Homo sapiens: one gene and its partner. The protein of the gene in region 1 purifies or fractionates together with the protein of each later gene. This does not show direct contact. Each region holds a gene or a part of one and is shown on either strand. Other genes may lie near its edges.

Region 1 (4,166 bases):
TTACATTTTTCAATGAATACTGTTTTAAAACAAATGTTTTAGTTTTATGTGCTTAAGTAAGATATTTTATACTTAGTTTTTAACCAAACCTTGATGATCAAAGAAAATATTTTGGTAATTGTTCAAAAATAGCTTAGAAGTACCATTTATATACAAACTGCTCTTCCAGCAGAAAATCAATAAAAACAGAAAACAATTCTAGCAGCATCTCATTACAACCTGGAACAGTGCATGAAAGTCCACTTCTGCTAGAGCCATTTTAGCTATAGACATATGCAATAAACCACTCGCTTGCTGTAAGAAAAGGGACGGCAAAAGTGAAACTACTTGGATAAGCATAAGGCATTAGACCACGTAAACCATTATTATAATTAAAGAAACATGAATTGAGCAGTGATTTATGGTAGTTGTACTATATTACACCAGATTATAACAACAAATCTTTTTTTGTTCGTAGATTTAGAAATAATGTACCTTAAATCTCTGTAGCTCCTTCTCGTTTACAATTGTGCTTTCATATGCACAATCTGATTTCAATCTGTATTACAACAATCCTGGGAGGTAGAAAAAACGGTCATTTTTGTTCATACTTTAATGGGCTAAATATAATTCCCATCCGTTTGAGACATGATAATGTGAACTAATTAAGCCTAAATTGTGCTAAAAATAATAAAAATTGTTATTGTATAAATGGGGCTTGGCATCAAATTGACACATTTTATTAAATATAATGTGCAAAATATAATGAAGTAACTTCTATTTAAAAAATGGTACAAGGCAGGTATTATTTAAAATGCTTTAGTAACTCATTTTCCATAAAAAGAAATCTGGCATTATAAAAATACATAAAATAATCATGATTTATATCATTAATTTACGTAAGATACTTTTTTGCATAAAACAAAGTTAAAAAATAGTTTAAAAAGGTATTCTTATATGAGCATCATTCCCAGTATAAAAATTTTCATAACTTTTTGTAATTTTGGTTCATCTGTATAAATAAAGCATTTTTATCCTTTTAAAATTCATAACTCCATTTAAAAAACATAAGATTCTCTCTCTTTTAAATAAAAGTTCACTTGAGGTAGTATGTTAAGCTTTTCCTTTGGTCTCATTCAGTCTATGTGTCCAAGTCATAAGACTGAAAATTTGGAGTCCTGTAGTTTTCTAAAGTCTGTTTAAAGGTACAAATGTGATTTTCTTCCTGAAAATCTGTCCTTTCTTTCCCATCTTCCTCTGACCCAGAGTCCAAGTCTGGGGAAGAATGAGCTTTCAAATAAAAGGCTCTTGGCTGACAATCTGATGGCTGTCCAAAGCTTGAATAGGCATCTAGGTGAGGTCTCCTGAGAGCTTTTCCAAAGGTACCTGAAAGAAAGAAACACCTTGAGCACATGGGTCCCTTTGCTAGCATGTGAATCAATAAAACCCATTGCAAATGAAGGAACATCTTACCCCATGAATATGAGTAAGTGTTTTCTACAAGTCCACATTATGGCACTCACATACATGTACATCTGTCTTACAGCCAGATCACTTCTAGAATGGAGCAAAAGACATTTGCCTTCCCTCATATTTACATCCACTGAACAAATGCATCTATTCTTTATCATTTCTCATGACCTGTAGTAATGTTAATGGTCATGCAATAAAGTTCCCCAATATAAGTTTCCCCACATCCTAGCTGAGAGCCCAATTTTGGTGACGGGTGTGTTGGATGGTAACATCCAAGTTAACTGAGGCTAAATAAAGAAATTTTCTTTCAAAATAAACCTGTGTCCTGCCCTTTCTTCATTAATTGTAGCCAAATATTACTCAATTGAATCAAATTCTTGCCTCAGTTATACAAAGCATATTATTTTAATTTTTTCCAAAAAAGGAATATAAATAATTACACTGTGATAAAACATAACATTTCGTAGAAGTTGGGTAAAATATTTGAAAATTCTCCTTTTTTAAATTTTATTGTCAACATGGCAAGTTGTGGCTGATTTTTCCATCTCTCTGTTCAGTGAAAAGATGACCTCAGCTCTTCCATCCTATTATCCCCATGCATCAGACGAAAAAATTCACTACCTAATCTCAGTGCCAGCCAGCATCTAACACCACCGACTTGGACCTTAAGGCTGGTTTTCTTGGCCAAAGGTAGTCCAGCTTGTCAGACTAGCAGTTGTTGCTAGGTAGGATGTTGTTTTCCACCCTTCGACTGCGGGTTCAGTTGGAAGCCACCAGACATACCAAACCACAATCATGCAGAGCACACAACTCCACCCCAAAGGCCGTGGGAGCCCAAAACCACTTTTTCCACATGGCTGACAAGCTGAGCTCCTAAGTCCTCCCCAAACCCTTGTCTTGGAGTAGATGCCACACACAGTGCTACCCAGAAAGCTCCTGAGGCTTAGTTATAGATTAAACACATCATCAAGTAAAATCCCACCTCTGACTTTGCTTTTGGAGGCATTTACACTAACTAGTCGGATGTCATGGCAGCCTCATTCAAGAAACCATTTTTTACCAGTTTGACATTCAAGGCTGTCATTGCTCTCTCACACACAACTTGGAGTATGGATCCTCAGACGAGGTACCTGATAACTTAATAAACTTACCCATGAAAGAATTACTCGAGGCAACCGACGCTGGCTCTGGATTTGCACTAAAATCTAAAGAGGACTTGTTTAGACACAGATTTTTCATTCCAGGTCCTTCATTGTGAGAGTAACTAGTGTTAAGTAGCTTCCTCACATGTGAAGGCCACGATATATTACTGAAGCTCCGTTCGCAGGATTCTTCTGAAGGATGAGAACATGGGTAGCACTCCTTTTTCTTTATGTAACTGGGCTCATAGTGGTCCATTAAAACTGTTCTTGGGTCAGGACTGCAACCTTTTTAATATGGGGGCAGTAACAGAAGGAGATTACAGTTAGCACATCTAGAAGTCTCTCTAAGAAACAGAACTGTACTCAAGCAAGAAAACCACCTACCTGTATGATATGTTTCAAAAGGATCTGAGCCATACACATTTCCCTTCAAATACATAGGGCCTGTGGATCCCAAAAACGGACAAAGGAACAGATCTGTGGCAGCTTCCACATCAGCTTCACTGCTATTGTCAATATGGCAGGTCCCTTTGAAACAAAAATCTTAGTCAATGATCCAATTATTCAAGTGCCATTCAACATTCTCCCCAGTTTTGGCATCTTCCATATTTATAGATGAAAGTTTGACTAGAACATCATATAGACAAAAAAATTGCAAAAATTTACAGTAGGGTTTTAAAAAATTTATTAGAGGACTTAATTAGCCATTGTGCTAGGTGTGGTGGCCTTATTGCTCACTTGGTTTCTACGGGAAACTGATATGTGCAGATCCTGCAGCCAAAGCAGCCATGGTCTAAACCACATACCATCAGCACTGTCCCCTTCTTACAAAAGGTCCCAGATGACCAGAACCAGGATTGGCACTTGGCCAATGACCTCTTAATGCCCATCTCAAAGATAAGCTCAGCTAAACATATCATCTCATGAGTATCTGAACCAAACAACACAGAAATATACGCCATTTACTGCTGGACACAGCAGGTGAAGAGTAAATGATATCATCAGGGTTAGAGATGTCACGATGACGCATGTGTCTGGGAAGCAGAAACTGGGCAGCAAGAGGTGGTGGGCTGAGAGAAAAGCAAATATGCAGAACGTGACACAGTAATGCTGGTGGCCCAGAGCTACTCTGGGAGCAGCCTCATCTCCAGCCTCAGCATCTAGGCAGCCTGGCATTATTATGCCCCAGTTCTGTCCCTTTAGGTTTTCCTTAAGTGTCTTTTCAGTTAACCCCATTATGCTTTAATGAGCTTGGGTCTCCACTCTGCCTCTAAACGGGTCTAACCAGAATACTCACTTCTATGCTCAGATCCTGTAACTCTACGCTCTTTATTTCTGGCTTGCCAAGCACTTTTAGTTTATCCACCTCTGACGAAACTGTGAAATTGAAAACATATACTTCTCTCCCAACTACAATGTCTGGCACAGAGCGTATAATAAATACTTATGGGAAAAGTTGGTCATATATTTTAGAATAACATCGATGGCTTCCACTTGCTGAGCCCTTAATATGTGCCTAGCGCCATGTAGTTTTCCATCTTCATTTCATTTGCACAAGTACCTCACCAGAAA
Region 2 (3,816 bases), on another chromosome or scaffold:
GAAAGGGGGCGGCCGCTGGCATTCCCGCTGGGGGCTGAGAGGGGCAGGGCTGACCAGCCCTCGGAAGGTGCGTGGATGCCCTTGCTGTCCTGGGGTGGCCCTGTGGGGAGCCGGATGAGGTTGTTGGACAAGTTCAGGTAGATGAGTCTCGGGAGCGCGGCCAGGTCGGGGAAATGGAGCAGTTTGTTCTCCCGCAGGTCAAGCCAGGTGAGCTGGAACTCAGCCTGGGGCTGGGAGGCCGTCTGAAAGGCCTCGATGCTGTTGCAGCTCAGGTCTAGCACCCGCAGCTGCTGGAGGCTGAAGTCGGAGATGCAGGTGAGGGAATTCCTGGAGAGGTTGAGATGGGTCAGGCGGGGCAGACCCTCGAAGGCGCCATCCTCGATGTCCATCAGCACGTTGCTATGCAGGTCAAGCTGCTCCAGCGCAGGCATGTCCCGGAAGGTGTGGCGGGTGAGGCGAGTCAGACTGTTCTCCGCCAGTGAGAGGGTATGCAGGCTGGGTGCCTCCCCCAGCAGCCGCTCCAGCAGGCCGCTGTACAGGCTGTTCCCAGACAGGTCCAGGGAGGTCACGCGTGGCAGGGGGCCCAGGCCACCAGCACTCAGCGCAGTGGCCATCGCCAGCCGGTTGTGAGCCAGGCTGAGGTGCTCCAGGTGGGTCAGGGCCTGGAAGGCTCCTGGCTGGAGGAAGCTGATCTCATTGGTGCTCAGGTCCAGGTGACGAAGTGCTGTGTAGAAGCCCAGGGGTGAGGCCAGGATACTCCGCAGCTGGTTCCCAGATAGATCAAGGGTCTCAGTGTCTGGCGGGAGCACCGAGGGGACCTGGAGCAGGCCCAGAACCTGGCACGAGACCTTCTTGTCCACCTGGGGAGGGGTAGGGTGGGGAGACAGCTGGCATAAGTGGGCACGGTAGGGGATGAAACCAGACATGTTTATCCAGGAACCCTGCCTGGCTGGGGAACCCTTCTCCCATGGACTCCCAGAATGCTCAACTTTCCCCCACCGCAGCCTGATCACCCCATGCCTGGATGACCCATCCGGCTCCCTGCCCCATCTCGGGCACCCAGCGCAGTAATGGGCATTAAGGAAGGAACTCGATGAAGGTTCCATGGGTGGACAGATGGAGAGATGATAGACAGATAGAAGGACAAATAAACTAACAAAGAGAAACCCTGTACTTATTATTACCCCTCTTACAGGAAACAGCCATATATCCCACAGAGTGACCCCAAGCCAGTGAGCAGCAGGGCAGAGCTGGGACCCAGGGCTCCTGATTCTATGTCCTAGGTCCCTTCTATGGGCACAGATAGTTAAATTTCTGGTGGTAGATGGGAATTTCTCCACTTTGGGAGAAATGTTTCCAAAAGGGAAAACTGTAATTTGTGCTCTGTCATCAGTTTTTATCTTGGCCTCCCTGCCTCAGACCTCATTCAGGCTCTCGTGTCATGGGCAGAGCCTGGGTCCTGGGGCCTGCCTTCCTTGTGGATGCTTCCGAGATGTGGCTTCCTCTCTGTTGCTGTTACCTCCTAGGAGGTGGCTTTCTTCCCAGGCTGGGTCAGGGGACCGGGCCCCTGGAGGTGGGAAGGGCCAGGGAAAAGATGGCCAGAGCCAAATCCACAGTCTTTGGTGATGAGACTGTGTTTGTGCTGTGCGACCTCCAGGAAGTCACATAACCACTCTGTTTTCTTACGTTCTTCCCCAGCAGCCACTCAGCATTTGACATCTTGGTTAATACTTTCAGGCCCATGGTCCCATTGGTCTTTACCACAGCCTGCCCATCTGATACGATCACCCCTATTTACAGAAATCTAGGCTCAGGGAGGGGAAGGGAGGTGCCAGGATTGCCCAGCTGGTGAGGAGCAGAGCTGGGATTTGAACCCAGGTTTTTTAACAACAAAAGGCCGAACTCTTGTTCTTCCACAGATGTGCCTTCTGGGACCAAAATTCTTCCTGTGCAAATGCAGGTCTCCCTCTTCTCTTCCAGGCCTCCAGGAACCCCAGCCTTTCCCAGAAAAAGGTCTGACTTCCACAATCACCGGGCTCAGGCTCACCGCCCCCAGCTTCTGTCTCCGCCAACCCGTTCTGACCCACTCACTGCTAAATGCCTGACAACTGCTCAAAAGCTCTACTCTGACAATGAGGCAGCTTGGCTTAAACTTCTCCACGGTGAAGTCCAGGATCCCCAGCAGGGCCTTCGAGGCTGTTTGTAGCCCCTGCCAACCTGTCCCCCACCTCCCACCCCAGCCCACATGCAGTGACCACAGCTGACCACTGCCCATCATGCGCTCCCACACCCACTGCTGGGGCCTGCTCCCTGAGCTGGTTATGCCATCCCCAACCAGATCCACACATGAACTCTTCACACTGAGCTTCAGGGCCTCCTCCACCAGGGAGCCCTCCCTGACTGTGCTTCCTCTCAGAGCTTTGCCCCGCTGAATTGTGGCTGTGTGTGTGAGGACCTGCTAGACAGCGAGCTCAGAGCAAACAGGGACTGGTTTGGTGGATGTGCATGCCTTGGACCTGACTAGCAAGTCAATTTTTCCTAATGAATGAGTCCCAGACATCATCAGTTTAGTAAAGGTCTGAGGCACTGAATCAATCACTTCTCTAGGAGGAAAGAAAATGCATAATTGATATTTTCAAAATATAGTCAAAGACGGGTAGAGCAAGAAGAGTTCAGCTGACCCACTTCCCAGATGTGAACACTGAGGCCTGAAGATGGCAGTGACTTGCGTGAATTCACAGTGAGCCAGTGGCTGAGCTGGTAGGGAGGGAACACAAGCCGGTGTGTTCCTCCCCTGGTCCAGCTCTGCGCTTCCTCCTGAGAGCCCCAAGGTGAGTAGGGGGAGGAAGAGACCTGCCCAGCCTCAGGCCTCCGTGTGGCTCTTCTTACTCCATGCAGCACAGTGACTCCATGTAGCCTCCAAGGGAGGCAGCTTCACAGGGGCCTCAGGAGGCCCAGGGATGCCCCGTCAGTTGGGCACCTGTGTGAACCTGAAACCTGCCCAGCTGCCTTGCCCATCCTTGCCCTTCCTCCCTCACAACCTCTCTGTCTGCAGGGGCCACTAAACATAGCCTCCTCCTCACAGCCCTTACCCCCTGGGGCATTCCTTACTTAAAGCAGAAACAACAAAATGACCTGTGATGGAGCCCCAGCTGTGTCAGGCTGCGTGCTGAGTGCAGAGACCCCCTACCCCATTAAATCTTCCCAGGCATTGTTCACCCTGTTCCTATTGTACCCCTAACGAAACTGAGGCTAAGGGGAGTGGGCTGCCCAAGATCAGACAGTCAGGGGCTCAAAACTCCCATTTGCAAATTCCTTTTCCTATTGGTGCCAGCCAAGTTCTGACCACTGGGCCCTCAGCTGGTCAGCACAGCAAAGAGCATCATGGACCCACTTACTGACTGTTACAGTGTGGGGGGCACCGTGCTGTGCCCCGCGTGTTACCCCCGGGCAAGTGCAGAGGCATACTGCCTCTGGATAGGCAAAGGCTCCCTGGGGCACCAGCCCCTGAGACTTGATCCAGGACACAAAGTTTGCCAAGCCCACAGCCCAAGACTGGCTTTCCATTCAGGGGCCCAAGACCCCTGCTCTAGAAGCCTGGGGGCCTGATGGTGGGCAGGGCTGCACTGGGATGCCCAGATCTCCAGTCCAGTCCAGGAAGAAGCTTGAAGTCCAGGGCGGTGCTCAGAGCTCCACTTCCAGGGTCTTCATGCCTCCTTCAGCTCTGAGCTCCCAGCATTGCCTGACTTACCGTCGGAGGGAATTGGAGGAATTGGCCCTTGACCAGAGTTTAGAGCTCCCACCCACTGTCCTGGG

Evidence for each region.
Region 2: the proteins of LRIG3 (region 1) and LRRC32 purify together in Homo sapiens (co-immunoprecipitation; one large-scale study listed by IntAct). This does not show direct contact.

The regions. Positions count from the first base shown.
Region 1 is NC_000012.12:58,871,452-58,875,617, forward strand, and holds the end of LRIG3 (leucine-rich repeats and immunoglobulin-like domains protein 3 isoform 2 precursor), read right to left. Parts: intron 3,123-4,166; coding exon 2,979-3,122; intron 2,880-2,978; coding exon 2,604-2,879; intron 1,366-2,603; coding exon 1,121-1,365; 3' UTR 704-1,120; downstream 1-703. UniProt on the Homo sapiens protein: May play a role in craniofacial and inner ear morphogenesis during embryonic development. May act within the otic vesicle epithelium to control formation of the lateral semicircular canal in the inner ear, possibly by restricting the expression of NTN1.
Region 2 is NC_000011.10:76,660,649-76,664,464, forward strand, and holds part of LRRC32 (transforming growth factor beta activator LRRC32 isoform a precursor), read right to left. Parts: intron 3,219-3,816; exon of another isoform or gene 1,981-3,218; intron 861-1,980; coding exon 1-860.